Homo sapiens: one gene and its partners. The protein of the gene in region 4 interacts with the protein of the main gene of each other region in a pairwise test. Each region holds a gene or a part of one and is shown on either strand. Other genes may lie near its edges. The genes, in order: GLIS2, YOD1, UBAC1 and PLEKHB2.

What was found.
Region 1: the proteins of PLEKHB2 (region 4) and GLIS2 interact in binary tests that used the Homo sapiens proteins (3 or more experiments, as listed by UniProt).
Region 2: the proteins of PLEKHB2 (region 4) and YOD1 interact in binary tests that used the Homo sapiens proteins (3 or more experiments, as listed by UniProt).
Region 3: the proteins of PLEKHB2 (region 4) and UBAC1 interact in binary tests that used the Homo sapiens proteins (3 or more experiments, as listed by UniProt).

Annotation. Positions count from the first base shown.
Region 1 is NC_000016.10:4,319,044-4,326,078, reverse strand, and holds part of GLIS2 (zinc finger protein GLIS2), read right to left. Parts: intron 1,432-7,035; exon of another isoform or gene 1,304-1,431; intron 810-1,303; exon of another isoform or gene 725-809; intron 1-724. UniProt on the Homo sapiens protein: Can act either as a transcriptional repressor or as a transcriptional activator, depending on the cell context. Acts as a repressor of the Hedgehog signaling pathway. Represses the Hedgehog-dependent expression of Wnt4.
Region 2 is NC_000001.11:207,043,314-207,047,019, reverse strand, and holds the end of YOD1 (ubiquitin thioesterase OTU1), read left to right. Parts: 3' UTR 1-3,171; downstream 3,172-3,706. UniProt on the Homo sapiens protein: Hydrolase that can remove conjugated ubiquitin from proteins and participates in endoplasmic reticulum-associated degradation (ERAD) for misfolded lumenal proteins.
Region 3 is NC_000009.12:135,951,352-135,958,386, forward strand, and holds part of UBAC1 (ubiquitin-associated domain-containing protein 1), read right to left. Parts: intron 4,065-7,035; coding exon 3,944-4,064; intron 2,403-3,943; coding exon 2,329-2,402; intron 1-2,328.
Region 4 is NC_000002.12:131,143,322-131,150,356, reverse strand, and holds the end of PLEKHB2 (pleckstrin homology domain-containing family B member 2), read right to left. Parts: intron 5,950-7,035; coding exon of another isoform or gene 5,908-5,949; intron 3,721-5,907; coding exon 3,584-3,720; 3' UTR 512-3,583; downstream 1-511. UniProt on the Homo sapiens protein: Involved in retrograde transport of recycling endosomes.

The DNA of each region.
Region 1 (7,035 bases), on a different chromosome or scaffold from region 4:
TTTTAGTAGAGATAGGGTTTCACCGTGTTAGCCAGGATGGTCTCGATATCCTGACCTCGTGATCCGCCCACCTCGGCCTCCCAAAGTGCTGGGATTACAGGCGTGAGCCACCAAGTCTGGCCTTTTTTTTTTTTTTTTTTTTTTTTTTTAAGACACAGAGTCTTGCTCTGTCTCCCAGGCTGGACTGCAGTGGCGTGGTCATGGCTAACTGCCGCCGAGGCTCAAGAGATCCTCCTGCCTCAGCCTGCAGAGCAGCTAGGACCACAGGTGCACCACCACCACACCCAGCTCATTTTTAAATTTTTTATTTTGCAGAGATGGGGGGGTCTCCCTGTGTCATCCAGGCTGGTCTCGATCTCCTGGACTCAAGCCATCCTCCTGTCTCTGCCTCCCAAAGTGCTAGGATTACAGGCAGGAGCCACCACGCCCAGCCCGTCATCTTCTAATTTAACAGAAAGAGGAAGTGAGTCCCTGGTCACTCCTGAACCAGTCAGAGAAACCCTGGTCTGTGGGTGTCCCTGAGTCTATTACTGGAACCATCACTTCAGCAGTATGGTCTTACAGATGGGGAAACTGAGGGCTGAAGGGGGAGGCATCCAGCCCAGGCTGCACAAGTAGGTGGCAAACCCACAACCAGAAGCCACGGGCAAGCAGCATGAGGACAGTACCCATAGCCAGGTGCGGGTACTGTGAAGGCAGGTGCTGTTTCATCCCCATTTTACAGATGCAAAAACTGAGGCTCAGGGGAGTGAAGTGACCCATCCAAGGTCCCACAGCTTGTCCGTGGCAGAGCTGGGTTTCAACCCCAGGTAAGTCCAGAAGCCATGTTCACTATTGGCCCTTCCTATGTCAGGGGCTCAGGCTTGGTACCCCCTCCCCGCCCAGGGACTTGTGGGGCTAGGAGGGATAGCAGAGCAGGCAGTGGGTGGGCGCTGGAGGGGCTGGCTGGGGTGGGGGGCCCACCAGGAGGCTTGGAGAGCCGAGGGCAGATCTGCTGCCAAAGCAAACGGCCCCACAGCCCCAGATTCCTGGGAACCAGCTGCGGCTCCCTGCTCTGGCCAAGAGCTCCACCCTCCTTGGCCGCCCAGCAGCAGGGGCTGGCGGGCAGGGGCAGGGCCTGCTGGGGGCCCCAGGCAGGAGGGCTCGTCCTCTCAGGGCCCCCCTTCCTGACCAGGCAACAGAACCGGACTCGAAATCTGGGGCCCCACCCGGCTCTGCTACTCCCTTTGCGTGTCTCTTCAGTCTGCGCCTCATCCCCCTCATCCCAAATGGGATTATATAGGACCCCCATGTTGGGTTTCAGGGAGAAACCAATGCAGTGCTGCACATCCAATCACTATTGAGTGCTTCTCCTTCGTCCGTAACGTTCAGCACGGAGAACAGTGCCTGGCACATAGTAGGTGCTTAATAAAACGTGCTGAATGAATCGTCGCCAGTGTGCATGAGTCCATAGCCTTTGGCCCATCTACCGCTGTGAGGGCAGCTGAGTGGGGACTGGCCATCCCCTCTATGCCACTGCAGTCTCACCCTGAACCAGGAGAACCTGGGCTCTGCCACCTGCCAGCCAGCGTGCACCCTAAACAAGCCTATGCCCCTCAAAGAACCTCAGGCCTCTTCAATCCTGGGGAGTGACCACAGCTGGCCCTAACCACCTTCCAGAGCCCAACTGCATCAAAGAAAGAGCACTACAAGGCCCCGGGAAGGCCTGATCAACCCTGGAAGGAGCTGGCCGCAGACAGGCCTCCTCCCAGGACTGGAGGGGGAGGAGCTTATCCTGAGGCCTGGCCCAGCAGATCCCAGGAGAGGGGCCAGGGCAGGCGGCACTTCCTGGAAGAGTGGGGGATTCACCGTCCCTGGGAACCTTTGGCTCAGTAGGCAGCCCCTCCCCCTCCCAAGACGGGGCACTCAGCCAGCACCCCCGGACCTTTTGGGAGGGCAGACCCCCTCCCGGGGTGGGAACACAAGGGGTCCGAGGTGACCCAGCCAGGGCTGACCTCTGCCCTCTGCCGTGGGGTCCTCGGGAAAGCACCTGAAGATGGGATGTGCCAGGGATCTTTTTTCTGCGTGTTCACAGAGTGTGCCCCAGGGCCAGGCTGCCTGGTTACAGCCCCCTGTGCCACCCCTGGCTGTGGGAACTCAGAAAGGCCCTGCTGTCTCTGAGCCTTGGTTTCCTTGTAGGTAACAGACACCACGGCAATGGTCCCTGGGACTCAGGGCATCTTGCAAGGGAGGGCCTTGTCCTCATGCCTGCCATAAAGAAGCTGCCAGCTACTGGTAACCTAAAGGATTCTTGTTTCCGGCCCCAGGCTGGGGGTTCCCTGCACAGCAACTTGGGCCTGCCAAGGTCACCCAGATAATTCAGGCAGAGCTGAAGCTGGAAGACGGGCCGGAGGGCTTCCCTGGCCTGCACCAGCCCGGGCTTCCTAGGAGATGCCCCACCAGAGGCACTTCCTTCTCCAACGCCAGCAGGGAGGGTGACACCGGGCTCCGGGAGCCCCGGCACACACACGCACACTCACACAGATGGCCATGGCAGTCCAGCTGCAGGGCCGGCCTGGCACAGAGGCCTCCCCATCCTGGTGGCTCCGGGCCCCTGCTGCAGTGGCCTCCACCCCCCCGCTGCCTGCCCGCTGCTGCACCTTTGCACAACTATGTCTGGTATTTTCCTGTCTGCCCAGCTTTGGGGGGGTGCTTGGAGCTATGATCACCGCCTGCACCTGGGCCCCAGCCAGAGGAAAGCCCGCCCCGCAGCCCCCACACCTGCCCACCCACCCGGGCTGGGAGGGGAGGGGACCAGAGCACTGGGCCCTGCCACCCAAATCCCTGGGAGGGGCTGGCACCAGGGAGCGAGACAGGGATGCACGCCCAGCAAGGCTGGGGCACAGACAGCCCAGGCCCTGCCAGGCGGCACTGCCATTCTCAGCAGACCCAGCCAGAGCTATCTGAGGCCAGCAAAGGGATGGGCCAGTGTAGCACAGGACATGAGCAGGCACCCACAGCACCCCCGGATGTACAGACACCTGTGCACAAATGTGGCACACACAGGACATCACAGTAACCCCTTGCCCCAGTGTCGGGGCCAGGACTCAGGAGCCTTGGCTTCTGGGGGAGAGCAGGGATGAGGCCGGGTCCCCAGAGCGAAGGAAACACCGCGCCTCCCAAGCCACGCCTGGCTGCAGGCAGATCCCACAAGGAGCTCCTAAGTCCTGGGGGGTCGGGGCAGGCCCGTGGCCCACGCCTCCCCTGCCTGGGGCCAGGTACCAGGTCCACTGGGAACGGCACCCGCCAACTCCGAGAGCAGGAGTGGGTAAGGCGGGCGGTGGACCTTGGCCTGCCCTCCTGCCTCGGTTCTCCAACCACGCATTCATGCATTCCAACGCCAGGCCCTGCTAGATCGAACCGGACCTTGAGGGTGCCCCGACCAAGGTGGGGTGGGAGAAACAGTGTAGGGGGGGGGCTGCTCCTGCAGGGGGTTGGGCACAGATCCGGGTCAGCCTCATGGATATGGGGTGAAGAGCCTTGGGGAGGTGGGAGCCCTGCGGGTCGGCGCCCGGTCAGCATGCCTGCTGCACACAGTCCATCACCCTGATGACCCCGCGAATGGATGCCATTTTCCCCATTTTCCATGTGGGGAAACCTGCCACTGTCACAGCCAGCAAGGGGCACAGCTGGGTTCGCCAGCAGACCCCAAAGCCCAGTGCCACAGAGGACCAGAGGCTATGGCCCGGCTGATCTGCAGTGACCCTACCAGTCATGGAGTAGACGAGGAGGCAGGAGAGAAAGAGGCCCCTCAGAGAGGCTGGGACAGAACCTAGAGGGCACTGGGGAGCCACAGAGGGCTCTACACAGAAGAGTGCCACCTGCTCTCTCAGCCCAGAGCCTCCTGCCCCAGGCCCTCTCCTTTGGCACCCCCCTTCCTCAGGATCCCCTGCCCCCTGGGAACCTGATGCTCCCAGGTGCCAGCTCCTCCCTCACCACCATCCATGCCCCCCTGTTCTCTTTCCTCCAGCCACCATCCCCTTCTGCCCCCTCCTCCACCAAGTGCTCCCTGGTTCACCCTCCCCAGCCTCGGTTTCTGGAGCTGCACACAGGCTGTGGGTCCAGGTACCTGAGGGCCTGCTGGGCAAAGACTTGCCTCTGTCCACCCCCGCTGGAGGCAGGCTGTCCCGGGTCCAAGTCCTTGCCAATGCATCACTGAAGCCAGTGTCACCTGTGCACAGCGTGGTGTACACAGCGCCGACCTTCAGCCCCAGGCCTCCCACTGGCCCTGGTATCCAGAGCCTCCTTCCAAGAAGGGAGCCTGGGAGTGGGCCGGGACATGTCTGGGACGCCGGGCAGCTCCAAACCCGCTGTGGCTACTGAAGAGAAGGCCTCACCAGCAGACCCCTGCCCCAGTTCCCACGGCCCCTGGCACGGAGCCCACCCCATCCACCAGAGTGAACTGGGCAGTGAGGCAGGGAACCCAGAATGAGAAAACTAGGCCTGGGTTTCCCCATCCACAGGAGGGGGCCTGCTGAGAGGACAGCCGAAGCTCCAACAACCCCAACCACTCATCTTAGGTGGCACAGTGGTACCTGCCCTTCACATATCCCAACACCTGGCACTCCGCGAATGAGTCCGTCTCATTCATGTATTCATTCACTCGACAGACATTCCCGCCTTTACCCCCAAGTGAGGAGGGGAGGGGTAGGTATGGAGGGGTTCGTGCCCAAAGAGGAATGTGACTTGCCCAAGGTCAAGGCTAGAAGCAGGGGCTGGTCTCCTGACATAGATGCCTCTTTCTCCCTGTCCCAGGCAAGGGACCCAGGAACAGAGCTGGACAAGGGTGTGGTGGCCCCTAGGAACCACCCTGGCCAGCTGGGATGGTGGGAAGGGCCCAGATCCCCCCCAGCTCCATCTCCTGCCACGCCCTCCCAGCCCTGGCCCCCAGCCCCAGATAGCTGGGCAAGAGCAGGCCCAGCAGGGCACCGCACACACAGGACTCCAGCCCATGCCCTCCTCCTCAGCCACCCGCCCCTCTCTGCTCGCCTACTCTGGAAGAAAGCAAGTCCAGAAGCCGGGGACAGCCTCCAAAGCCATCGAGGTCCTTTTCCTTCCAAAGGGGAACACCCACTGGCAGGATCTGCCAGGCCTGGTGGCTCCAGGCCCTCGGGGCCCAGTGGCCCTAGAACCAAGCAGGGTGACCACTAGGTGCTCCGGGGGGTGCTGGGGGAGGCCGGGGCTGGCAGGGAGACGAGCACCAGCACAGGGTTGGGGGGACTTCAGAATAGGGAGGACAATGGAGGCCCCTACAGCCTTGCGGGGAGGGGACATCCCAGCTCAGAGTCGGTCTGCCTGGAAGTTGGGGTGGGGAATGGGGGCTCTGGATGAAGGTGGGAGTGGCCCAGGGGAGAACTGGCCCAGGCAGGCCGGGACTTGCTAGACAGCCCCAGGCAGACGATGCAGGGAAGGGGAGAGGCTTCTTCCAGACACGTTGGCCCCCGTCATGCCCTTGCAGTGGACGTGGGGGGCAGGAGTGGAGCTGGGGGGATTCCCAGGCTAAACCGACATTTCAGGGGTCAGGGCCAGACAGCCCCAGACTCCAGTTCCCCTCTGTTCTTCCCCGATTGGGAGTGACCTCGGGCCAAACCCTCAAATGTCTCAGAGCCTCAGTTTCCCCCCACCGGCCTCCGACGACCTCTTGACTACCAGGGTCCAAGCGAGGCTGCCCTGGGAGCGTGCTGTGCCAGCGGTGGGGACCCTCCATGTGACGGGCAGGACTGTTTTCCGGAGGCTCCCGGCCGGGGGCTGACTCAGTCCACTCAGCGGTCTCCTGGGGCCTCTGCTGGCTTCCCACCCGCCCTTGGCCATGACTGGAGGAAGGGGCCAGGGCTGGGTCTCCGTCCCTTCCCCGGCAGCCATCTGCCAAGGCTGGAGTCCGTGTGCACGCACATGTGACACTCACAGGCCGGCCCCTCCCTGCGGTGGGCACTACCTGGCCTCTCAAGCACCGAAGACAAAGGGCACGAGGAGCCCAAGTCACCCGCCCCCCAGCCATCGAACTGGAAGAGTCTCAGCCCCCACCCATCCCCCAGCAGGGGCTGCTGGGGCAGATGGGAAGCCCCCACCCCTCAGCTGGAATCACTTCCCATCTCCATGCCCCCCAGGCCCACTTAGCCTGGCCACCAGCTAACCAGAATCCTCCAGCCCATCTGGGGGAGTGGGGGAGTGGAAGGCGAGTACCCGGCCTCCGTGCCTGCCCAGCCTCACCCAGGGGCTAAGCCGGAGCCAGGAGAGAAACCTGGGTCTCCTCCAGGCTGTGCCCTGCAGACCCTGCCACCATCATCACCATGATCCCTCTCCAGTCCCTGGGATCAAAGCAGTGCCCCCACGCTGGCCCCCCAGCAGAGTACTAGAGGTGCTTGTTGGAAGCGCGGAGTCCCCGCCCCCAGCCACGCCTGACTTAGAATTCACCAGGGTGGGGCGGAGGCGGCCACCTCAGAAACCACTGAGAGGCAGATGTGGCCCGGGAGACTCGCTAGGGCTGTGGTCCCCACACCCAGGGCTGGCAGCAGGCTGGGGCAGGGCGCAAGTTCCCAGAGACGTGAACCCCCAGATACACATCAGGGCCTCAACCCATCTCTGTGGACCCTTTCATAGCCCCTGGGAAGGGAGGCAACTTAGGCAGAGGGTGGAGAGCATCTTTCAGCTGGTCCCACAGATCCCCTAGCCAGCAGGGAGAGGGTCTCTTACTGCTCAATACACAGCCCCGCCAAGCTGGGGATGCCCCCTACCCCTGAGAAGGGCATTTATCTGGGTGAGGGGAAGACCACCCAGGACCTTCCGGGGTTCCCCTGTGGTCTCAGTCACCTGCTGTGAAATAAAGTAACAATTATAGCCATGAGGAGAGGAAGGGATTCAGGGGACACTTTTCTCTGCAGCCACCCCCGCCCCAATTCCACCCAGCACAGGGCCTCTCCCATGGAATCAATTTCCTCCTTAGGTGCCAGAGACCCCTGGGCCTCCCCTTAGAGGCAGGAACCTTCGGAGGCAGCC
Region 2 (3,706 bases), on a different chromosome or scaffold from region 4:
AACAATTATCAAATTGAGCTTTATGCATCATTACTCAGAAAGCTTGCCTTCCTTTCTTTGCTACTTCAGGACACAGAGTTGACATTTGCTTACTACAGCTTTAGATCTAGAAGTTTATTCGTGCAACAAATATTTATTGAGTAATTTATACTGTGCCAGGCATGTTTTGATATGTTTCTGTCATATGTTTTGATATGTTCCAACATAAGTTTCTGTCACTTTATATTCAGTATATATTTTCTACAGTGGGTAAATTTAACAAATGGAAAGGAATAGAACACTGATATTTTACAGAATTAAACCCCTTCATTGTAAGGGCTTTGTTTACATATTAAGTGTCAAGTATTTATTCAGGGGATCTTATTTCATTGTATTTTATCTGTTATCTAGGTTGTCCATTTACCGGTTGGACACTGATACTCTGTCAAATTCCTTTCAAAAATGACTCTTTAGTCTGCTGAAATTTAGCACTAGTACTTTAGTGTTCTGATCCTGGAAAATTCAAGGTGAAGCTTTATTTGTGGACCATCTGATTTAATTATTGAGGATTAAAAACCTAAACCTTTGCTCATTCTAAACTCAAGCTTTTAAGCCTCACAGAATTTACAGGGGTTTGCTTTTTGTTTGTTTGTTTTTTCATTTTTTACTGTGCTTATTAAACTCTTGGAATTAGTTATTAAAGGGAGTAAATTCTCATCTTGGGAATTTTGAAAATCTATGGACTTACAACTTTCAGGAGGATTAAATGTCTTAAGTTTTGTACTAGAGCAGAATGAAATCTTTCCTATTCATTGAGTTTTTGCCTGCCATAGAGGAATTTTTTTAAAAATTAAAATGACAGTTTATATTAGTGGCAAAGTGAATAAAGACCTCACTTTCCCACCCCACCCTTCTTCCTTTCTCTTACTTTTCTTTGGATTAAAGGTCAGGTGTAGTACTATGAAGATTCACTCCTGAATAAAGTGATTTCAGAAGCTAAAATTTAACATACCTGGAAATTTTGTGATGTGTTAGCCAAGTGAAGACATTAGTGTGTTCCATCTTTTGCTAATGGTTCATGGTTGATTTCTTCATTGTTTCCCATGAAATTAGCATAGTCAAGTGGTACCCTTGACGCTTGACTGCTGGTCAGTTTGACCCTGTTTTTAACAACTAATGTAGTCATGCCGCTTGATTATTCCATGAAGTCCCAGCAAAATAATAATGAGGAATTAACTAACATTATGTTATCTATCTAATTTGTCTGTGTCCCTAAATGCCCATGCCTAACTTGCTTCTCTAGTTTATTCCTTCTGTGGAGGGATTAAAACGTGGGTGTTGCAAGTTGCCCTAAGCTAAACATAGTTTTCTTACATCTTTTTGGGAAAAAAAATGGAATGGGAAGTATGCAAGATTAAGCAAGAGTGATTTTTTTTTTTTTTTGACAAATCAGGTGGCCTTCCTAAACATACTAAGAATTATGTTCTTTCATGTGTGGAGACACATTTGTTTGCAGCACTTTAAAAAATATATATGGAATAAAAGTTTACATGTTGGCCCTCTAGGGATCTAATTAAGGACATTAAAGTACAATTCTTGAGCTACTAACCATCAGCTCTTCTTAATCAAAGATTGCCATCAGTGTAGAGTGTATCTATTGGCACAACATTCTGGTGTTTTGATAACAGTAGAACTCAATTTCAGTAACTATTAGGAGCATGGTCTGTGCCCTAGCATTAAAAATGTTACTTATTATTATGTGAATATCTTGTATTATTATACAATGCAGTATTCAAATTTGTCCTTGTAGTGCAGAGATGACTGATAATTTCTAAAAGATTCGATCCTTAAAACTTGTTTCCAAGCAGACTTATAAGGAAGCTGATTTTTGAGTCAGAGGCCTTAAACGTGTCATATACAAGTGGCATCATTTTAAGTCCAAAGTGAAACACTTGATTTGAATAAGCTAGTTTATAAACTAAAGCTGTTTTCTTATGTTACAGTATTTCAGCACATTTCATTCCACATAAAAAGAATATTAAGTGTCCCTGGTTGTGGGAGAGTGTTTATTTTTCTCAAAATTATCTAGCATTTTGCTTACAGTGCTTTGAATGTTTGACTTAAAATTATTATTGATGTTGAATTGTAGGGTGCTGATTTAGGTCTTGATTCATACACATTTAAAGGAGGTTGGTAACCCCCTCATGGTAGAGTGAAGGGAGAAAAGGGCCAAGAAGACAAAGTACCACTGATAAAGAAGAGATTGTCAAATAGATGCATTCCTAGTCATGAATTACCCTTTTCCAAACATTTTTAAAGCAATGCCTTTGTGTCAACTCAACCCTTCTTCCCCATTTCTTGTCATAGAATGTAGCATGGCCATAGGTGAAAAAGCTTATCATTAAAGTATGAAACCATGAATTATAAGCATTTTGCCATGATGCCCTTTTATACATATGTTTTTAAAAGTACTAACCAACATATAGGAGTTTAGGAATGGTGAAGATATAATTTGATTAAGTTGTAGGTAAACAGAAAGGATCATCTTAGGCTCAGAATTTCTAATATGATTACATGAGTCTACTTTATAAACTGGTATAGGCTATGTAATTAGCCCGTAAGTTACTTAAAGGACCAGGGGACCTAATTTTTGTCAGTTTTCCAGTCACATTGGTGCCATTCAGGACTCCAGCTGTTTACAGGAAATATGTACTTAGCAGAATAGTATTTTTCCTTGAAAAAAATTTGAATTCAGCCTAAATACAGAATGAATATGAATAGTTTGTGAAAAGGGTTAGAGAACAACAATATTCCTATAGTTTCTGTATTAATGCAGTAGAGACAGAGGTTCCTAACGCAAAAAGAAAACCACAAGTAAAGACCGTCAAATTAGAGCTTTAGAATATGACTTGAAAAAGTAGGGATGGGCAAAACAGCATAAGAAAATATTTTTTCTTAATGCAGATGGACAGTGTTTTCTTGTTTTAAAAATGTTTTGCCTATTTGCCAGCATTTTTTGAAGTAATACACTGCTGCTACCTGGAAGATGTCTAACTTCATTTTCTACAACTCTTATGTGATTTTGCCATTGTCATTAAGATGCATTGATTTTATTTATGAGGTGTATGACTTTAAATATCTAAATGCTGTATTAAGTGACTTGTTTCAAAGGAATAAATGAAGTGAAAACGTTGTTTGAGTATATTTTGGGATCAGGGCAGATATGGCCACTGAACGGCTATTTTACTCAATATACATATTATCAAAAGCTTACCGAATCTTTAACTAAGGTACCAAAATCTGCCAAATATCACCCTTTAGGCGGACTCAATGAATGAGACAGGAGAAACTAAGGTATTTCTCCTTAACGAAAGGTTGAAATTCCCATTCATTGACTAAATTTTTTTCTAAATCCAATCCTACAAGTTGTAATTCAATATTTGTTGCTGACAAGTTGTCAGTGTGGAAAGGCTTAATATTTATTTTCTAATAGACTGCAATCTTTGTGAACTTAGATCTGTTTGAAAACAGCAACATCACTATAGGAGGGTTTATTTCATCTTTGGCAATGTCAACATTTAAACATGTATTTGAAGCAACCCTGTGGCTATTACAATTGGCCAGAGTTCAGGTTCCCTAACTAAACTAAACTATTTAACCCATTCTTTCTCATTGAAAGCTTTAAAATTATGGACGTGGAAGTATAATAATATCTAATCAGTTTGTA
Region 3 (7,035 bases), on a different chromosome or scaffold from region 4:
TGGTGGCACACACCTGTGGTCCCAGCTACTCGGGAGGCTGAGGCAGGAGGACTGCTTGAGCCCAGGAGGTCAAGGTTGCAGTGAGTTATAATTGTACCACTGCACTGCAGCCTGGGCAACAGAGTGAGATCCTGTCTCTAAAACAAAAACAAAAACTAAATTAAAAATTAATGTAGGCCAGGCGCAATGGCTCATGCCTGTAATCCTAGCACTTTGGGAGGCCGAGGCAGGTGGATCACCCGAGGTCAGGAGATCGAGACCAGCCTGGCCAACATGGTGAAACCCCATCTCTACTAAAAATACAAAAGATTAGCCGGGCGTGGTGGCACGCACTTGTAACCCCAGCTACTTGGGAGGCTGAGGCAGGAGAATCGTTTGAACCTGGAAGGCGGAGGTTGCAGTGAGCTGAGATCACGCCACTGCACTCTAGCTTGGGTAACAAAAGCGAAACTCTGTCTCAAAAATAATAAAATAATAATAAAAATAATAATAATTAATTCATAAAAATATGAACTGACATCTTACAATGTTTCAGTTTGCAAATATTTGAAGAGAAAAGGTAAGCTCCTCAGGTTAGCTCCAAGCTACCCATCCAAGAGGCTGTGGGGCAACGGGTGTATGGTCAGACCCCGCTGTTTATATTAGTTACGGGCCTGTAAGTCTGAACACCAACGGTCAAACTGTAATCTGAGAACTGTGAATGCTGCCTGCAGCAGTTCCCAGAAACAGGCCTGACTCAGGGACAGGCGGAGGCAGGCCCAGATCTGTCCGCTGCAGATGGGTGGGGCGGCAGCCTGTGTGTCACTCATGCGTGGCCAGGTGTGGCTGAAGATAAGGAGGGGACCCAAGCCCAGGGTGCTCTTCCTGGGTACCCATGGTCCCAGATGAAACCCAAAAATAGCTTATGCACTACCAGGCATGGGCCTAGCCCAAAAGAGTTTGACCTGCTCTTTCTCTGGGGTGAACACTCTCCTTAGCCTTTCAAAGCACGAGTAAGAAATTCTACCCTTGAGATGAGTAATGCAAAGACAGCAGAGGAAAGTGGCTGCCCTTCTAGCTGGCAGGCTCCATGCTCGGCACGGGCTCAGGCCCTGCTGTGGGGTAGGACACGCCACTTGCAGAACGCATCTTCCTCTGCTCAGTGAGCTTTCCAAAACATGAGCTTCTAGGGCAGCCAGTAAACAACACACTGCACGGTGTTCCTAAGGTACACGTGCAAGTGGACGGTGCAGACCATGAATCAATAACGTGTGAGTGAATGTAAACACCAACGACATCCAGTTCTGTTTTGCAAGAAATAGACAAGACAGGCAGAACTCAGCCTCTCTCAGCATTAACAGTGCAGCTGAGTATCCCTCATCTGAAATGCCCGGGACCAGAACTGTTTCGGATTTCGGGTTTTTTCAGATTTGGGAATATTTGCATTCCAAATAATCAACTCAAAAAGCACCAACGAGCACTTCCATTAAGTGTCATTTTGGCACTCAAAAAGTTTCAGACTGCGCTGCATTTCTGCGTTTGGATTTTCCGATGGGGATGCTGAGGCTGTGCGGTGTGAGGTGGGGCTTGTCGCGAGTGCTCCCTCACCGGCCACTCTCTGCATGCGCAGCCCTTATTCTGTGTGGTGGTTGGTTACCCACTTTCCTCCGTTTTTCTGTCAGGACTGACTTGGCTGCTTGAAAAGAGGAGGGAACAGGAGCACACGCAGGTGAAGGCGGACAGCAGCGCGGGAGTGAACCGTCACGCAGGATGTGTCCCTACCCTCCTCTCTGTCTCAGAAAACTCAGAGGCAGGTTTTCCGTGCTGGTCCCGTGAGCAGGGAGGGACCAGGACTGACACGGATTAAACAGGCTCTGCCGGGAGAGAGAACCCCTTATAACCACATCTACTGTAAATGGCGAATGCGTGGGTTGGTGAACAACTAGTATAGAGAACTTCTTTATAATTCTTTTTTTTTTAAGTTTGTATTTATTTATTTAATTTTGAGATGGAGTCTTACTCTGTCGCCAGGCTGGAGTGCAGTGGCACGATCTCGGCTCACTGCAACCTCTGCCTCCCGGGTTCAAGAGATTCTCCTGCCTCAGCCTCCTGAGCTGCTGGGACTACAGGCATGAGCCACCATGCCCAGCTAATTTTTTTTGTATTTTTAGTAGAGCCGGGGTTTCACCATATTTGCCAGGATGGTCTTGATCTCTTGACCTCGTGATCCACCCGCCTCGGCCTCCCAAAGTGCTGGGATTACAGGCGCGAGCCACTGTACCCAGCCTGTAATTCTTAAATGTAGACTTCTACCAACCAAGGTCCCCAATTGCAAACTTTGAAATTTACCTTTTCTTCTGCTGAGACATCAGCCATCTTGGGAAGTGGTGATGGAGCACGCTTTTTTATCAATAATAGGACATCTAGAAAAAACAACACGTATATCCAACACACTGGTTATCACTTCATATCCACAAAATGGCATAAAGGGTGCTGGATGCCCTGAGAACAGAACAGCAGGGATTCGGCCGGGCGCAGTGGCTCCCATCTGTAATCCCAGCACTTTGGGAGGCTGAGGCGGGCAAATTACCTGAGGTCAGGTGTTCAAGACAAGCCTGGCCAACACGGTGAAACCCCATCTCTACTAAAAATACAAAAATTAGCCAGGCGTGGTGGCGCATGCCTGTAATCCCAGCTACTGGGGAGGCTGAGGCAGGAGAATCACTTGAACCTGGGAGGCGGAGGTTGCACTGAGCCAAGATTGCACCACTGCACTCCAGCCTGGGCAACAGAGCAAGACTTCATCTTAAAAAAAAAAAAAAAAAAGAAGAAGAGCAGGGCTTCAGCTGGGTGCAGTGGCTCACTCCTGTAATCCCAGCACGAGGCAGGCGGATCACTTGAGCCCAGGAGTTCAAGACCAGCCTGGACAACATGGCGAGACCCCATCTCTACGAAAATATAAAAAATAGTTGCGCATGGTGGCACATGCCCGTAGTCCCAGCTACTTGGGAGACTGAGGTGGGAGGACTGCTTGAGCCCAGGAGGTCAAGGCAACAGTGAGCCTGACTGTGCCTCTGCACTCCAGCCTGGGTGACTGAGCGACACCCTGTCTCAAAAGAGCATGGGTTCCTTTGGTCCCCCCAAACCAAGCATCTACACCAGCCTTCCCTCACTTTTGCATGATATCTGCATGGCCCTAGCTGAGGTACAAGCTCCCAGGCCTGGCACGAACCCCCAGGTGACCCATGGCCCAGGAGGCAGGCACAGCACGGCCCCAATAATTGTGCAAAGAATTGGTGACAATCCTGCAACAGGCATTTTAACCGGCTCAGTTCTGAAAAAGTCTGTGAGGGTGGAGAGTTTAGTCTTAACCCTCAGAGGTCAAAACCTGAGATGCAGCTCATCCTCGGCCCACGACGGTGCCCATCCCCCACTGGCTTGGAGCTTGATGGTCATCTCAGCGGATATCTGTTAGCAATACTTCCAGGATTTTCAAAACAGCTTACTTCAAGGACTTCCACAATTAAAGGCATTATTTGAATGACACAGACAAAACTGATGTCTGCTCTTCAAGTGCCTCCAGACACAAAACCATAAGCAATTACATGGATGTGTGTGTCTAACACTGCACTGGGATGCCAACATCACCACAACGAAGGTGAAACCTGCAGAACCCCTGGAGTCTCTGGCTTTGCTCTGAAACAGAACTAAAAGCAAAATTCACATTTGGCTTCTCAAATGCCTGCTGCTTGTTCAATTTCAATTTCTGCTGTTTTTCACAAATACTCTATAACAGAACTCTTTTTAATAAAGGAAAAACAGAATGCTTTTAGTCGATCTCGTTTTTGTGCTCGTGTCCAGCTCAGAACACTGACTCCTGTGGGTGGACCACCCCCTCCTGGCTCCAGCGCCCCCAGCAGTGCACGATGCCTGCTGCCAACCCGCCCGCCCACAGCAGCCTTACCTTGGTCCTGGATGTTCTCTTCCAGGATGGTCCTGGCATCACTCAGCACCCTCTCTGAGGCAGCGTGGATTAATTTATGATGGGTTATACTTTTGGGATCTTCTAAGCTCCCATGAGCACACTGGGGAAAAATAGAAATTTCAAGGTAGAAAATAAGTAAATCGTAATTCTAATAATATAGGACCTGGCATCCCAAGCTACACCAGGAATTTACTGGGTTTTCTTATGAGCTAAGAAATTACACCATGGATGAAATTAAAGAATTCCCACTAATGGTAGATGCCAAATGAAGCATCATAGCACCAGTGAGCTGATCCCCAGCCCATGGAGTACTCCTGAAGCAAGCTCCCAGCTCTGATATACCACACCCTACTGACAATTCGCGGCCACCAGAATTGCTTCTTTGGTCTAGAAAGATCTGGAAAATAATTTTAAATGAAAACAGCAGATCCATTGTTTCCTGATGACCTAAAGATCTACCTAAGTTTTGGGTAGCTGTTTTTCTTTTTTCCACAGACGCATGAAAGGGGCCAGAAAGGCTGCCCAGAAAGAAGACTGGCTCACAGAGAGCCTGAGATGGGGATAAGAGGAGCGCTCGGCATGACTGCTCTCAGCTTGGCTCAGCTCACTAAGTAACAGCCATGCTGCATCCCGAGATTGGGATAAGAGGGGCACTTAGCATGACTGCTCTCGGCGTGGCCCAGCTCACGAAGCAACAGCCATGCTGCACCCCTGGGCGGCTTGAAGGTGGACCAATGGGCACGCAGTCACCAGGGCCCTGGAAACCCTGCCACACCCGGGCAGGGAACGGGAGGCAACACATGGGTAGCAGTGAGGGGATCCCCTTCACACACACCACAGCCACCTCCGAGCAGCGCTCACGGGGGACCTGGGAAGCCATCTTGACAGCTACTGAGTGCAAACTCCAGGAGGAAGTTGGAGCAGACGGCCATGACCCCTTCCAACCCTGCCATTACAAAGATCTCACAGCCAACTGCTGGCAGGGGTAGATCCTGCTCCTCAATTCGGCCAGCATCCTCTCTGCAAAACAGCACACAGCTGTCCCTGATTCATGCACGTGGCACTGGCTTGCGGGAGTCCTGCTTTCCTTTGAACACGGGGGCTAGGCGCGTCGGCTCACCATTTTGTGAAGAATGGCAAACACTGATGGTGCCGTGTGATGAAGACTGAGGTCGGCACATGTGCCTGCATGTTCGTGCCCAAGTCGGTCCAGAGCTCCACGACTCCACTCTATTATCTACCTCAGCACCATACAGCCCGACACACGACAGCACAGCACAGCACACCACCGCACAGCACAGCACCGCACACCACACCAAACAGTGCCCACCTAACCAAATATGGCGCCTCCCCAGCCGGAATCGTGGGGTGAGAGGAGAGGGGCTGCACTTCTGTGTTTCACAAAATACCCACAGTTTCCATAGCCTGGCCTGAAAACCCTTCAGAACTCAGAGCTTGGACGGAGAGAAGGCTGACTATTTTCTTGCTCTTACAGATCCCCTGAGGTTTGATGGTAGAATTACCTGACTATCAGAAAAGGATGAAACCCTCACTGGGCACTTTCTAAACCCGGTAGCAGGCTCAGCCTGTGGGTCAGGAGCATGGCCCAGCCTGGAGCTGGGCCGGGGCACCACCCCAGGACAGGCCGTCCTCGGACGTCTCAGGTGGCCGGGCAGACGCCCTGCTGGCAGCTCACTTTCCACCACCCTTTGCTGCCACAGAGGCTCTGAAACACCCAGCACACACAACTGCTTGCTGGGAAAGAAAATCTAAGCACACACTTCACCTCTCAACACTGGCATTTTCAGAGTAACTGGAATTTCTGTTACTCTCAAGACTGAAAACGGTTTTGAAAAAGGGATTGACGGCTTCAGGGGCTCACTCCTTCACACAAAACTGGCCAGGCTGAGGGGATGTTGGGGGGACGCAGCTACTAGGAAGACACACTCCTGCCATTTACAACAGGGCAGAGAACCCTCAAGTGCCTCTGGATTTGACAATGGCTCTGCTCCCTGAAATACTGGGGGTGCTTCCTCATGATCCTAAAGTTTGCAGGCTAGTTCATTTGTCAAGTTCAGAATACAGACTACGAAATGCAGTTTTCCAAAATAATTCTCATACTGATTCCCAAAAAACCCACAGTCCACGTGTCACCAGCACACCAGGAACAACACGGAAGCACTAGGACGACCGTGTCACTCTGCTTCTTTGTTCTCGGCAGAAGCTGGGGTATGGCAGCAAAAAAGCCCCAACCAAGGCCGCTGGAGTAGGGAGGCCCTCACACCCCCACCCCACTCCATCCTGCTCCTCCCCAGAAGAGTAGTGACTTCGTTTCTGCTTGTACCTGATGCAACCTGCCATCTGAGGACCCATCTTCATGCGATCTAGGAAATGGAAAATTTAACAGCTATACTAGCGGGTACTCTCTTCTAGTCTGGCAATTTTATGAACTCCTTCTTTTTTTTTTTTTTTTTTTAAAGACAGGGTCTCATTCTGTCACCCAGGCTGGAGTGCAGTGGCGCGATCTCCGCTTATTGCAACCTCCGCTTCCCAGGTTCAAGCGATTCTTGTGCCTCAGCCTCCTGAGTAGGTGGGATTACAGGAGTCCGCGACCATGCCAGGCTATTTTTTTACATTTTTAGTACAGAAGGGGTATTGCCATGTTGGCCAGGCTGGAATTTCATGAATGTTTACGACACACCAAAAACTCTACTGCACCACAGGTATAATTTTCTTTTTTTTTTTTTTTGAGACGGAGTCTCTCTCCGTCGCCCAGGCTGGAGTGCAGTGGCTTGATCTCGGCTCACTGCAAGTCCCACCTCCCAGGTTCACACCATTCTCCTGTCTCAGCCTCCCGAGTAGCTGGGACTACAGGTGCCCGCCACCACGCCCGGCTAATTTTTCTGTATTTTTAGTAAAGATGGGGTTTCACTGTGTTAGCCAGAATGGTCTCGATCTCCTGACCTTGTGATCTGCCTGTCTTGGCCTCCCAAAGTACTGGGATTACAGGCATGAGCCACCGTGCTCAGCCAGGTATAATTTTCTAAAACTCATTAACTACCTGTTGTACA
Region 4 (7,035 bases):
TGGGCAACAGAGTGAGACTCCGTCTCTAAATAAATAAATAAATAAATAAATAAATAAATAAAACAAAAAAGTCATATATCCAAAGATGCTGGAGAAGTTATTGGACACACACTGCCAGAGGGATCTGGTTGGGAAAAATAGTGTCCGTTTTCTCACAGCCATCCCAAGAGTGTGACTGCACGGGCCACTGCTGTTTGTGGAAATCAAATTCTCATATGCACACGGCACAGGGAACAACAAGGCGTTTTAACATCAGATGTGGAGACCTACTACCTGCACGCTCCTGAGTAAATTATTTAACTTCTGAGCCTCGGTCCCTCCAGTGGAACTTGGATAATACCTCCCTTACAGAGTCACTAAGAATTCAGTGAGTTGTCTCTAATGTGACAATATACTAGCATTTGGTAGGTCCTCAATAAATGGCATTCTTATGATCCAGGACAGCAGAAAAAGCTGAGAGTATGTTACTACAAAGTAATTTTTTAAAGACAACAGAAGTCACAATGAAACATGCTTTAAGGTTAATGCTTTAATGTATTGACATTTTCACTTACAAATGTACAATTTGCGTATGTAGGAAAAAATCAGTTCTCTAGACACAACAGAATACTACTAGAGACGGGAAAGCAATCACAAAAAGATCAACTCTGGGGAGAAAGTGGAACTGCATTCCATGCCTTGTATCTACATACACTAGGGAAGGAAAAAGAAATATTACACAGGATCAAAACTTGTGGAAAATACACTTGGGTCATTTTGTCTCAACTGCAGGACCTTCTTATGATCCAGATGGCTACCTTAAGTCCTGGATAGCCTAAAATGGGCAAAGTCTGGCCTTGTTCACAAATGATGATCCAAAACATTAACCACAGTTCTCCTTCTCTTTAGTATCCAAGACCCTGAAGTTGACTCAAGGAATGAAAAGAACAATCAGATCAGCATGTATATAATATCATTGGCCAACTTCTTCAAGGTATGGATTATTTAAAAGTACACATGGAAGTAAAATGCTTACTCAAACCTGAATAAGAAGTTTCTTGTAACTCAAGCACTTCTTGACTCACACTAAGTGTAGCACTGTAAACAAAAGACATCGTTGAGAAACTGAGGCTATCAAAACATTGGCATCTATGGGAGTTGTGGCCAAGGAAATAAAATACCTGAGCAACCTTATACCCAGTATGCATTTCATACCAGGATCAAGTCACTAATGACAGCCAAGTTCCAGGCTTATCTATGGCTGCCTAATGAGACTGGCCCCACTAGGATGGGGACTGGGGAGGGGACACACATGAGTGCCCAAGCTTCAGTCTACACCTCCCCCCTTCAGCCAGAAGCAGCCAGGGGAGCACAGGGACATCTGCTTCAAGAGCATTTTGGCAGCAAAAATCAATACTCTGTGGTTCCTGGAATTCCCACCCAGTAATTCCAAGTTCAAAATTACCACCAGTGCAACATGAAAAACTGTTAATAGTTTTTAAGTAAAGTGTACATACAGCTTTAATAACGATTATAATCTGAAGAAAGCCATTCTTCTTATACAGGATGGAAAATCCTCAAAGCAACATTTTAAACCATGGACACTAGAGTTGTCATACATCTATTCAGAGATGAGAGATAAACAGACATCCTTCCATGTGGAAACAGACACTCCCATGTCAACAAGTCCCCTAGGATCAGAGAGAAAAGCAGACCCGTGGTCATCACTAGGTGTCTCTGGTGTCTCGCTAAAGATGGAGTCCTATGTAGGTTGGCCTAAGTTGGCCTCAGAGGGAGGTGGCTGAGCAGCAAAGCAAGACAGCATGTGTGTAACCAGCCAGGCAAAATAACAAGTCTGTGCTACCTGGAGTGTATTTTCAGGAAAACAGGACCATATGGAGTGTGGGGCAGGGACATTCGCTGTGCTAAACTGCCACTGTAAAAGCACACTGTTGAAAGCATGCAGGACAGAAAACTGCAATAATTCAGAGCTTGAAAACAAGAAATAACAGAAATATGAATATTTCAAATACACACTTCATATACTGAAAATAAGAGCATTTGAAGAAAGGCTGGAATGGGTTTTCCAAAGACTCACACATTTTGGGGTTCCAAATTCAATGTTCTAAGCTTCTCTATCACAAAGAGATCAAGAACAAAAGCAAAGCTGGGGGTCCTGGCCAGGCTGAGTGGTACCTTGAGCCGGTCCCTGTGTCCTGAGGGTCCCTGGGCCCCATATCCCATCCATAACCCAAGTCTGCTCAGCTACAGTCTGCCCTGGTGCTCAGTGAACAGCCACAGAGTCCCACTTCTGCACAGGATGGGCCTTCAGAGTGATGAGAGAGCATCTCCCGCACAGTGCAAACCCCCAAAGGCCAGAAATGGGAACGCTCTAACTAAGGCTCTCCTTCCACTCCCTCACTGTTCCTTTAATATTACTCTCTCAGCAAGTAGAAAAATAGGCTATAAGGAGGCTTAGGCAGACACACACTCAAACAGCCTCTTGGAATAAAGCAAATCTGCCTCCACATACTTGTTTGTATATTGTTCTGGCTTCTCCAGGATTTTTTTTTTTTTTTTGAGACAGAGTCTCACTCTGTCACCCAGGCTGAAGTGCAGTGGCACTATCTTGGCTCACTGCAAGCTCCGCCTCCTGGGTTCACACTATTCTCCTGCCTCAGCCTCCCGAGTAGCTGGGACCACAGGCGCCTGCCACCACGCCCAGCTAATTTTTTGTATTTTTAGTAGAGATGGGGTTTCACCGTGTTAGCCAGGATGGTCTCGATCTCCTGACCTCGTGATCCGCCCGCCTCGGTCTCTCAAAGTGCTGGGATTACAGGCGTGAGCCACCGCGCCCAGCCAGCTTCTCCAAGTTTTAAAGGATTAAAGCCCTCAAACTCTCAGGCTTAAATCAATTCCTAATGTGGGATATGTTCTCCAAGTATGCCTACCAAAGCCATACAAGAATAAAGTGAGCAGCAGCAGCAGCTAGGGTCAGGCAGATTTCTGAAGCATGATTGTTCAAAGGCGGGCTGTGCCCCATCATCCTGAGCCATCGGCCTTGCCAGGGGCCTGTGGAGCCCCAGAGGGCAGGACGGGGGCTCTCACACCATAGCCTCGGGAAGTACCTGGGAGCTTACCAACCCACAACTCCTAAAGTAACATGCAACCAGTTCTGGTCTGTGGTTTGAAAAAGTTAAACGCAAAGAAGCTGTAGCTTTTCTTGCCACAATCACTCAATAGGCATACAACACTATATTACTGGCATAACATGAAAATAAATTAACCCTTAAGCACTACACCTAACTCTAAAAAGAAAATGCCTTTCAAAACAGGTATGCTCAAATAAGGTATTCTGAGAGTTGCACAAGAACAGTCTTGGAATGAGCCAGTGCCCCCGGAGAGTCAACATTTGAACAAAATAGCACAGTTCAAACCCTTCTCTGTGGTACTTATGTGGATTAGTACAATTATGACATCACTACTTTCAAAGGAATGATTAAAACTATTATTAAAAACTTTTGTCACAAACAGAAATGCCCTGCAAATCATATTATTGCACACAGGGTTATCAGAAGCTATGCACATCAAGACCTTGAGGCCCCTAGAAGACCCAAAATAGAGACCCTAAGGCCATGCCCGTGGCTGCTCCTGCCAGCATGCCCAGTGCCAGGTCGCTGTCGTTGTCTCGATAGCGCTCTCGAATGATGACTTGGTTAGCAGGCTGCTGTCCATAAAGTCCTAAAAGAGAAGGAAAATAGCAGATTTCTGAGCAGCGGTTTGTGAAGTTTAACATCACGCAAAGTACCAGTTCTCCTTTCACAAAAGGGATCTGCTGTCTCCTGTCACACTGGCGACCCAGCCCTCCTCCACAACAGGCACATCATGTGGCCGACATCCCTGAAACCGCACACTGGGAGGAAACCAAGATCCTCAGCTCACTAAGGGCCAAAGTCCCTAATCTGCAAAAAGCAGAACCCTAATGAAGCTTTCAGATTCTAGCCTCTGATTTCTACTTCAGCCCTCGACACCATGCTTATTGGGTGGCAGACAAATGGGGAACATGGGAGACACACAGTGCCCAACAAAAGCCCAAAAAGGAAATGCTCACTTAAAGCAAATGAGCTTCTTAGTATGCACGCAAACCAATTTTTAAATTAAGCCTTAAATCTGCACATATAACTTTTTTTTTTTTTTGAGAAGGAGTCTTGCTCTGTCCCCAGGCTGGAGTGCAGTGGCATGATCTCAGCTCACTGCAACTTCCACCGCCCAGGTTCAAGCTATTCTCCCACCTCAGTTTCCTGAGTAACTGGGACTATAGGCGCCCACCACCACGCCTGGCTAATTTTTTGTATTTTTAGTAGAGACGGGGTTTCACCGTGTTAGCCAGGATGGTCTCGATCTCCTGACCTCGTAATCCACCCGCGTCGGCCTCCCAAAGTGCTGAGATTACAGGCATGAGCCACCACGCCCGGCCCGGCCTACTCTTTTTTACTGCATGTCTTTATAGAGAAAAAATAAATATTTATGTTAGAGGTGAAAACTTCAAAAAAACAAACCACAGACAAATTTAGTATTTAATTTGCAAGATTAAAATTTACAACTGGAAATATACTGTTTGCTCTCTTCCATGCTTCACAGCTATAATGCCTAGTAGCTAAGTAGCTTTCAAACTGCTCAGGTATTAATAGCGTTAACTTTCCTCCTTGATCCTCTATTCCTTTAATGGTTCAAAGGCTGGCTGGCCAGGCTTGATGGCTCACACCTGTAATGCCAGCACTTTGGGAGGCTGAGGCAGGTGGATCACTTGAGGCCGGAAGTTTTAGACCAGCCTGGCCAACACAGTGAAACCCTGTCTCTTAAAAAATTACCAAAAAAAAATTAGCCAGGGGTAGTGGCGCATGCCTGTAATCCCATACTGAGGCATGAAAATTGCTTGAACCTGGGAGGCGGGGGCTGCAGTGAGTTGAGATCCTGTCACTGCAATCCAGTCTGGGCAACAGAGTGCAACTCTGTCTCAAACACACAAAAAAAGAAAAGAAAAAAAACTAGTCACTAGTGATGTGCACATGTGGATGAAGAGCAGAAGTGAAACCCGCAGTGGTAACAAAGGTGAACATTTCCAGCCACTTACAGCACTACATACATTGGAATGCTCTTACTCAACTGAGTGCACTTTTATCCCTATTTTGCAGATGGGCAAACTGAGGCACACAGCAGTTAAGGACAGTAAGGGCACACAAACCCAGGCACTCTGGCTACAGTATGCATTTATACCCACTAATGCCTCAAATACAACAGAGGATGATGAATGACAAAACTCAAAAGGCACAGAGTAGTACAATGAAACCATCGTAAATCTAAGGGCTGATCTGGTACAGGTAACAGTACTGGAAGCAAGTGATTATTTTTGCAATGTTTAAATTTCAAAACTAGGGAATTACGGCATTTACTTTCACAGCCCTGACATTTTAAAATGCTCAGTAATGTTAACTCCAACTAGCCAAATGTAACACAATAGAACTTGTGAGCTGACCTAATGAAAAGGTCCCATGGAAAATCTACATTCTGATGCCCCTGCAAGTCATGCTGAGGTCCCCTGGCTGCAGGACCAGGCCACTCTCTTGTGGCTCCTGCTGAGCTCTGCTCCTGCATTGAGCTCAGTCCTTGCCAGAGTCAGCTGTGGATGCTTCCAGGTCACACTTATTATAATTGCCTAATTTAACTAATATTACATAAATGGTCAAAATGTGAATGAGAAAAAGGCAGACACAGTTTCTATGGCAACTAAGATACTACAGGAAAAACTAAATAAAGGAAGGTTACTTTTACAAATTACCATCAAATCAGGGAATTAAGAAAACTATAAAAGATGGGAGGATGGGAGGACTATAGTCCCCAAATCTAGAAGTCTGCTCTTGGACTTACCCCTGGAAACTGCAGTGCAATGACGTGTCATGAGGATGGTCTCTACAAGACAGAAATAGAAGACTCCAACCAAAGGAGCCAACTCAAAGCAAACACCTCAACCCCACATTATAGGAGAGCCGAACGAACACCCACTAGCGGGTTAAATCACAGCACAATGTTTACAATACGTCTACAGTACTCTGTACTTTCTCAATTGGCTGACCAACCACTGGTCCCAATCACACTGAAGAGAGAGCCTTAACCAGCTCTGTGCATGACTAGGAGGGTTCTTGTGGACTAGCTCTAGGCAGTGAGACCCTGGCAGACAGGATGGCATGGAGGTGGCAAAGCACCCATCTGGTTGTCAACACAAGCTGCTGTGTATCGACCACAAACCCATTTGACCCTTCCACAGCAAGCAAGTCTGGGGGCTGCCTGGTCACCACTCTGAGGCAGGCTGGCCATAATGCCTACTGACTCAGCCCCTTATGTGGGCGGCAAGCATTCCGAGTACTGCCTGTGAGAGTGCTACTTCTACTCTACTGACGAGAGCCAAGGGCAAGGATGGACTCATTTCCAGAAGTGCCCTAAACAACCACGTCTGCAATATCTGTGCTCTCTATACAGTAAGAAACAGCGGCAACAGCCCTATTCTGTGGGCTGGAAGCTGAGAAAGAGGCTGGCTCTCATGTGGCAAGGCTAGGGCTTAAAACTCTCCATCCCATGGGATCCCAACAGAAAAATGTGCAAAGGAAAATTATTCATAAAAGGTGATATAAACTAAAGCAACTCGATGATTCCACTTGAGACCTACTGAAGCTATCAAAACTTTTAGAGCACAACAGGCCATCTTTATGGGATCACAGATAAACCACTGCATCAGTAACTGCTAGTGGCATTATAAGTTGGTAAACCATTCTGGGATCAACTTGGCAAAATGCTATCCAGATTTAATGTAATATTAACAGATGAAATGATTAAAAATCTGGGATGTCCCTTAAACTAATCCAGAGGTAGAGAAAGGAGGCTGAGGTAGAGATAAAAGATTAGACATGATATGGTTAACTGCTGAAGCCAGTGATGGACATATGATAGTTCATTATACCATCATCCCTATTTTTTATGTTTGAAAACGTTTACATTTTT